Linked DNA regions of Homo sapiens: all the other regions are linked to region 3. Evidence: fine-mapped expression QTL. A gene starts in region 3. Each other region holds a variant in brackets. All regions are shown on one strand. Distances are between the middles of the regions.

The links. PIP is the estimated chance that this variant, and not a neighbour inherited with it, causes the effect.
Region 1: its variant is the best candidate, but not a certain one, in a credible set for the expression of CSNK2A2 in lymphoblastoid cells (TwinsUK, PIP 0.87).
Region 2: its variant is the best candidate, but not a certain one, in a credible set for the expression of CSNK2A2 in blood mononuclear cells (TOPMed, PIP 0.55).

What each region holds. Positions count from the first base shown.
Region 1 is chr16:58,145,715-58,148,540 of GRCh38, forward strand. All of the region lies in intron 3 of LOC101927556 (a long non-coding RNA gene), which reads left to right. Among named protein-coding and RNA genes, the nearest start is that of CFAP20, 18 kb to the left of the region's middle. The variant C/CA (reference allele first, on the strand shown) is at 1,169.
Region 2 is chr16:58,161,372-58,164,218 of GRCh38, forward strand. It overlaps CSNK2A2 (casein kinase 2 alpha 2), which reads right to left. Exons shown (of 12, transcript NM_001896.4): 11 at 2,683-2,776. The coding sequence ends at 2,700. Among named protein-coding and RNA genes, the nearest start is that of CFAP20, 33 kb to the left of the region's middle. The variant T/G (reference allele first, on the strand shown) is at 1,690.
Region 3 is chr16:58,196,777-58,199,276 of GRCh38, forward strand. It overlaps CSNK2A2 (casein kinase 2 alpha 2), which reads right to left and starts at 1,330. Exons shown (of 12, transcript NM_001896.4): 1 at 857-1,330; 2 at 1-68. The coding sequence starts at 960. RefSeq lists silencers at 764-833, 1,234-1,503, 1,554-1,683.

The DNA of each region.
Region 1 (2,826 bases), 51 kb before region 3:
TTTCACCGTGTTAGCCAGGATGGTCTCGATCTCCTGACCTCGTGATCCACCTGCCTCGGCCTCCCAAAGTGCTAGGATTACAGGCATGAGCCACCGTGCCCGGCCTCCCCCTTTTTTCTTTTCACCAGTCATTCCTTCTTTGTCTTCTTTGCTAGTCCATCTTCATTTCCTCCATGTCTAAGCTTCACAGGGCTCCAGGTGCTGTCTGCAAACTCCACTCTTCCCAAAAATCCACTCCCTCCAATATCAGCTAGTCTCATGGCTTTAATAGCTCCCTATATATAAGCTGATTCTTTCCACCCCTATTCCCAAAGTCTATCTTCACTCCCACTGCCCCATTGGGCTCCATTTGCATATATCCAACCAGCTATTTGACTTCTCCCCTGGGAGGTATCGTGGGCATTTGGATCTTAACATGGCCCAAACAGAGCTTTACATTTCTCCACCCTCTCCCCTCACACACATCCCACATGCAGCCCTTACCCAAGCCTGCTCCACCCCAAGTCTTGCCCATTTTGGTAAGTGACAGCTTGATTCCTTGCTCAGACCCAACACCTTGGAGTCAGTTCGAGCTCCACTTTTTCTCACAGCCCACATCAGCAAATCCTGTAGCTCTACCTTCAAAATATCTCCCCAATCTAATCACATCCCTACCTTTATGGGTACTGCCCTGGTCCAAACATCAACCCCTGATATGGTTTCAATGTTTGTACCGTCCACATCTCATGTTGAAATGTGATCTTCAGTGTTGGAGGTGGGGCCTGGTGGGAGGTATTTGGGTCAGGGGGCAGATCCCTCACTCATGAATAGCTTGGTGCTGTCCTTGTGATAGTAAGTTCTTGGTCTGAGTTCACGTAAGATCTGGTTGTTTAAAAGTGTGTGGCACTGGCTGGGCGCAGTGGCTGACATTTGTAATCCTGGCACTTTGGGAGGCTGAGGTGAGCAGATCACTTGAGGCCAGAAGTTCAAGACCAGCCTGGCCAACATGGTGAAACCCATCTCTACTAAAAATGTCAAAAATTAGATGGGCGTGGTGGTGTGTGCCTGTAGTCCCAACTACTTGGGAAGCTGAGGTACAAGAATCACTTGAACCCAGGATGTGGAGGTTGCAGTGAGCTGAGATCATACCACTGCACTCCAGCCTGGGCAACAGAGTGAGACCCTTTCT[C/CA]AAAAAAAAAAAAAAAAAAAAAAAAGTGTGTGACTTTCCCCCTCACTCTCTTGCTCCCTCTCCTGCCATGTGGCGCACCTGCTTCCCTTTGCCTTGTGCCATGATTGTAAGGTTCCTGAGGCCTCACCAGAAGCATATGCTGGAGCCATGCTGGTACAGCCTGCAGAACTGTGAGCCAATTAAAGCTCCATTCCGTATAAATTAACCAGCCTCAGGCATTTCTTTATAGCAACGCAAGAAGGGCTAATGCAGCCTCTCTCTCCTGTACGCCTGAGACAGCCTCCTCCTGATTGCTTACAACTACTCTTGCCATCCTGTAGTCCACTCTCCACATGGCAGCCAGAAGGATCCTCTTAGTGGCTCTTTGCTCTAATAGCTACTCATTTTGCTAAGAATAAAACTAAGGCTCACACCTATAATCCCAGCACTTTGGGAGGCCAAGGTGAGCAGATTGCTGGAGCCCAGGAGTTTGAGACCAGCCTGGGCAACATGGGAAGACTCCGTCTCTACAAAAAAATGCAAAAGTTAGCTAGGCATGGTGGTGCACACCTGTAATCCCAGCTACTCAGGAGGCTGAGGCACGAGAGTCACTTGAACCAAGGAGGCAGAGGTTGCAGTGAGTCAAGATTGTGTCACTGCACTCCAGCCTGGGTGACAGAGTGAGAAATATATATATTTAAAAAGTGTGTATATAAAATATAAAAAATATTTTTTAAAAGTATATAAATATAAAAAATATATGTGTGTGTATATATACATAAATACACACACACACACCCCCACATATATACACACATTAAAAAAAAAATCCTTACTCTGGTCTCCTCCATCTTGTTCCCTGAAACCACTTTGGCCTTCTCTCCTACATCCTTCTCCTCACACCCTCCTCCCTCAGTGCTGCCTGCACCCTGCATCCCTCTCTCACCGGCTTCCCTCTGCCTCTGTCCCTGCCCTGGCTGGTCCTGCTCTACTGGCTCACTCTTTTCCTCACTCGGAGCTCCACTCAGGCGCTGTCTGTATTAGCTACCTAGAGATGCCACGACAAATGACCACAACCTTGGTATGGTGGCAATTGAACAAAATAAAATTAAAGTAAAATTAATTCAAAATAAAATTTAAATGTAAAATAACAGCAATGTAATCTCTCACAGTGCAGAAAGCTAAGAAGTCCAAAATCAAGGTGTTGACTGGGCCATGCTCCCTCTGAAGGCTCTGGGGCAGGGTCCTTCCTTGCTTCTTCCTGGCTTCTGGTGGCCCCCAGGCATTCCAATCTGGTTGGCTTGTGGCAGTGTCTTTCCAATTTCTGCCTCCATCTCCATGTGGCCACCTTTTCTCTGTGTCCTCTCCTCTCGTTATAAGGATACTCTCAGCATTGGATTTAGGGTACACCCTAAATCCAGCATGACATCATCTTGAGATCTTTGACTAATTACATCTGCAAAAACCTTCTTTCCAAATAAGGTCACATTCTGAGGCTCTGGGTGGACATGAATTTTGGGGGGATATTACTCAGCCCACAATACTGCTTTACTGGAGAGGATGTCTTTGACAACCCAGTCTTAAAAACAGCACCCCCTCCACACCCTACCGACACTTGTCTTCCCACTGCTCTGCCTGATTCTTTTTCATTGCACTCATTACCACTTGACAGTCTAAAT
Region 2 (2,847 bases), 35 kb before region 3:
AATTAAGTCCTTATCATAGGCACTTTTAACCTGTTTAAGATAATGAAGCAAACAAATGAAAAGTACTGAGATGAGTTTAAGAAAGAATATGCTAACTGAAAAGGATACTGGGTGCGTACATTTACCATGGTTTAGTCTAAATATTAGACACACAGACACACACACAGACACACACACAGACACACACACAGACACACACACAGACACACACACACCCCTTTTGGAACTCTCCAAGACCATCTCCGAATCTAGGTAAATAGTCTTAAAATTTCGGGGGAGCTAGGTTTGGAAACAAAAATGGTTTTTGGAGACAGGAAAAGAGATGGTCTGAAACTGGACTCACTTCAGTTTGGAAAGGAATAGCCTAGGTGCCAAGACCAGACCCAGGAAGGGGTGAGCATTTCAAGCCCAGTTATGGTCTAAGTCTAAGGCATGAAGAGAGGTAAAAGTCTAGGTGCTGGAAAAGCAAGCTGTGTGCTTCAAAGGAAGAATGCCTGTGTCAAAGCTGCAGTTACAAAACCCCAGGACAAGGCAGGCAGGCGGTGTCTGCACCTACATCACCGTCAGAGAGACAGGCAGAGGTCAATCACCTGACTATTCTCCTCCAGGTACTTTTATTACCTTTGGGGGACCCAAGGGAAAGGAATGGAGTTACCGCTTCACCAAGACCCTCCAGTAGGCACCTCTTGCCTGGTCCAGACAGGCAACTTAAAAAAAAAAAGGGAGGGCTGAGGAGTGGGGTGGGGTGATAAAGGAGATTGGAGGGGGAGCAGGAAAGACACGCAGTGGCACATCTCCCTGATGATAACCAATGCTTCAGGATTGCCTATAAGGGCATATTAGAAGGCTTTTGATAATCTCAAACACTGAGTTTTGCTGCCTGACATATCAATACAGGTTTAGCCAAAGAGCTCACATCTTGCTTTTGATTTTCAGGTAGAACAAATGTTTACATTAGTATACAGAATGTGCAATGCAAGCAGGCAGCATTGGTATGAGAACCTTAACTGAATGCATTCCTTGGCTTTGGGATCTTATTTATTTTTTACTCTATAAACTCAACTCTATAATAAGAGAAGAGTTTCATTTGTATTTTAAGTTCCCACAGACCAAACGACAAAAATAGAATCTACATTTAGAGTAGGATCTGCTACCAATACCAATAAGATTTTATTGGAATATGGAATGTAAACAAATGTTTCAAACAAACATCTAACCTTATAAAAATGTATGGCATTATTAAATAGTTAATAAAGAAATCTTAAAGGGTGATGTGGTAGACACCTCTAGTTCTAGCCTAGGTGTGTGAAGTCCCCACAGCTGTGGCATGGCCCTGCAGCTGGGGTGAGGGGACTGCCTACAAACCATGTTGCTCCTGAGTCCCCAAAATGAAATCAGCCCTATTTTTGTTTAAACAAACTCTAGCTTTCTCTGCTAACATGAAGGTTTGCAAAATGGATCCAACACTTGCTCCGGGAGCACCATTTTCTTCCCCAAGCCCCTTGTATATTCCTCTGAGTTGCTTGAGTTTCAGATGACCCTGCCCACACAACTCTAGTACCTGCATGCAAGACAGACTTATCTTTGCCATCACATAAATGTATCACATATCAGAACTTACAAATGCATATTACCCTGATTACAGTGGGAAACTGTGTCTCATGGGGATAAAAGGAGGTGGGAGAGAGA[T/G]ATTTTTTTCCATAAGTCTTTCCTGAAAAAATTCTAATGGGATGTTTTCCTCCCTCGCCTTGCCTGAAGACTGACTTTCCAGCTTTAGTTATGGTTGTGAACAAAAAGGTCTCTGTTTCAGAGAGGTGCATTAAAATAGGCGCACACATAGGGATGTGCTGGGAAATGGTGAAGTTCTCCTTACAAGGCTGCCAAAAAAAAAAAAAAAAAAAAAAAAGAAAAAGCAACAAAAAAATAGCAACAAGATTTTATGGTTAGGGAAATCAACAAAGGTTATAGTGAGCTCCAAGTTATGCACTTAGCATGGAACTTTTGATGATAACCATGGACCAGTTCATGGCATTGCAAGGTTTCGTGATCCCTCCTGACATCAAAGAGGACTCTTGTGAAAGTGACTGCAGTTTGCTCCCAAATGAATCCACTTGGAGGAAAACTGCGGGGATGAGGTACATTTCCTGGAGAGCTCATGTCATTAAAAAATACATAAAACGTGGATTTGTAAAGAGCTTAAAAAAAAAATACTGTCACTGTTTTAATATCTCCTTTTTGTAAATGAGGCTGGTGTGTCAGTATAGACTGCTGACATTTCGCTAAGACTTGAGCCTGAATTTCACCAAAGGAAACCCAGACCACAATGGAATAGATAGGAAGTCAGACATTCAGAGCTTGTTGACTGAATGGGTTAATTCAACAGTGGTGCCCTGTTAAACAAAGGTAAATGTACAACAACTCCGAGTCTCTATCTCCCATGCATTCCAAAGGCAGAGCTCCTTCAGATCCTGAACTAGGTGCATCCCCATGCTGCCACAGTGACAGCTCCCTGGAGACTAGCACTGGGGAGTTTCTTTCTTGCTTTTTGACAGACTTTTAGGTCTTTACTCTTCTGTGCATTTAGAAGGAATGATAAGAATTTCTTTTTATCACACTGTAGTTTTCCTTCAAGGTTTGTGTTTGGTTGGTTGGTTTTATTGGCAAGCATCAATGCCGCATTACCCGTCGCTTTCCAGTCTTCATCGTGCTGCCGTGAGACCACTGGAAAGCACAGCATTGTCTGCACAAGGCTGGGACTGCTCCTTCACCACAGGGTCTGCAAGAAAGCAGGAGGAAAGTCAGGCAATCAGGGTGGTGAGTGCTGAGAGAAGCCCATGGCAAACCCAC
Region 3 (2,500 bases):
TGGCCTCAAATACTTCACTATATTTTCCCCGACCAAGTTTTCGAACCAGTTGGTAATCATCTTGATTACTGTAAAAGGAAGACACACACATAAATGCCAGGACTGGGGGTTAACCAAGCCTATGCCCACTGTACACGTCATTCAGCCGCTTCCACCAGGCAAACACTTGGAAGTGTCTATACATCACGTCACAACTCATTCCCTAAATGAAAGCCACGACATAATCTTGGCTCCCTTCACTCTGCAGAGCTCCTAACCTAATTGGTCTCTCCTAACTTGGGAAGATGGGGCAGGAAGGCAACGCTCTGAGCCAATCCAGAGGGGCGAGCAAAGCACCCGTCCTGAAGGCCTAGAGGGTGCCCCCTGTGCCCCGCGGCTCCCCAGCACCTGCTTCTCGTTTCACATCTTCAAGGTAGACAATGCCTGTTTTAAAAATCTGGACGTCTTTAAGAAATTTCCTCCCACCACCTCATCTCAGAAAACCTAAAAGGCAGGGCATTTTAATAGCTCCAAAGGACAGCTGTTGACTTCCCACCCCAGTGGAAACCCAGAAGTGTGAGGAAGGGCAGCTCCCTCACTTCCACCCGGCGTCGATCCCTGGACCCCACACTTCTCCCCGAGTAAAAAAGCATTCCTTGGGGGAAAGGGGTGCGCAAAGCGGGGAGAAAGGGACGAAACGGGGGTAAAGGGGAGGGAAGAGGAAGACGAGGACATGTGCGAGAGCGGGACCTCTGCCTCCCTGCGGGCCCGCGGAGGGGTCGGCGGGAGACACCACCGGGCCCGAGTGCGGTTCGCAGGGGGTGGCCGGGCGGGGGCAGGGATCAGCGGGCCCGGCGGGGGGCGGCGACGGCTTTACCCCCAGCTCGGGACGTGAGCCTCGTAGTCCCAGTACTCGCGGCTCCTCAGACTGTTCACCTCGGCGTAGACCCGGGCCCTGCTGCCCGCGGCCGGGCCGGGCATGGCGGGCGGGACCGGGGGGCGGCGCGGGGCGCAGAGGGTGGCGGCGGCGGCGCGGCGGGGGACGCGGGGCGTCGGGCGGAGGAGGCAGCGGGCCGCCGGGCGCTGGAGGAGGAGGAGGAGGAGCGCGGCGGCGGGCGGCCGCGCCAGGCCGGGCCCGCGGGGGCGGGCGGGCTGGGGGCGCGGGGGGCGCCGGCCGAGCCGGCCCGGCCCTGGAGCGGCCGGCGGGGCGGCGGGGCGGGCGGCGCTCGCGCTCCGCGGCGGTCTCCGCTCGGCTCGCGGCCCCCAGGAGGCGGCGGCGGCGGCACCGGCAGCGGCAGCCACCGGCCGGGAAAGGGGCAGCGGCGGCGGCAGCGGAGAAGAAGGAGGAGAGGAGGAGGAGGCGGAGGAAACCCGGAAAAGGGGCCGCGCTCACTGGGAGCGGCCGCCGCCCGGCCTGGGGCCGCCCAGGCTCACAGCGCCCCCTGGAGCGCGGGGGGACCCGCCGGGCGGTGCCGGCCCCGCCCCGGCCCCGCCCCGGCACGCCCCGCCGCCTACCTCGCGCCCTCCGCCACCCTCGCCCTCCCGCCGCCACAGGTCGGACTGTCCAAATCGCCTCACCCTCGGGCTGGCTTGACTTCACGCCACAGGAGCCCCCCCTTCCACTGGCCGTTGCCCTAGAGCCCTCGCCCGCGACTCCCGACCCTTTCACTGTCCTTGGAGACCCTATCCCCAGCCCTGCACTCACCCAGCTTTTACCCACCCAACACATCCCATACTGACCCTATTCTGACCCTCCTGTCACCCAAACTGTCAAGTCCCTCCCCAGGGCCTCACTCAAACCTCAGAACCTCCCCCACCTCAATACTTCTCCCTTCCCCCGAGACATACCCCTCCTTCCCCCTCTGGACCCTGCCCTGTTAGGGTAGACTCCTCAGTCCCCAAGGCTTCCTACCCCCGTCATTCAGAGTGCTCCTCACAAAACCTTTCTACACTTCCCCCAAATGCCCTTCCAGAGCCTTCCCTGAATATCCACTTTGGTCACTTGGTTAAGCTGGCATTGACCAGGTTGTGCCACTGCAAAGTTACAATTTTTCCCTTTGTGATTAATAAGTCATTTGTGGGGAGAGACTTTGAGAGTGTAAATCTCCTGTTTGTGTTTAGGAGGAGGGAGAGCAGGAGAATTGCAAATCCGACCTGAAGGGACAGGCTGGGTTGGGGATGTGCCCAGAGTAGGTGGTCAACTGAGCTGGCCTGGCTTCCAGTGCTGCCTGCAGCCTTGAACACCCTTCTCCTTTGATCTTCTAGGCCTTTCTTCTGTCTTCCTTTCCCATCCCTCATCCTTTATCGACAGCACCTCTGCACCCAGTACAGGTTGCTTTCATTCCAGTCCCTTTTCACATTCTGTTTTCTGGATGAAACCCTGGGCCTTCCTGCTTGACACAGCTAAGAGCACAGTCTGTGGAGTCAGATCTATCCAGCACTGCTACTTAGAAGCTGTGTGACCTTAGGGCAATTACTCAACCTCTCTGTGTCACAGATTCTACAGCATAAAACCAGTAAT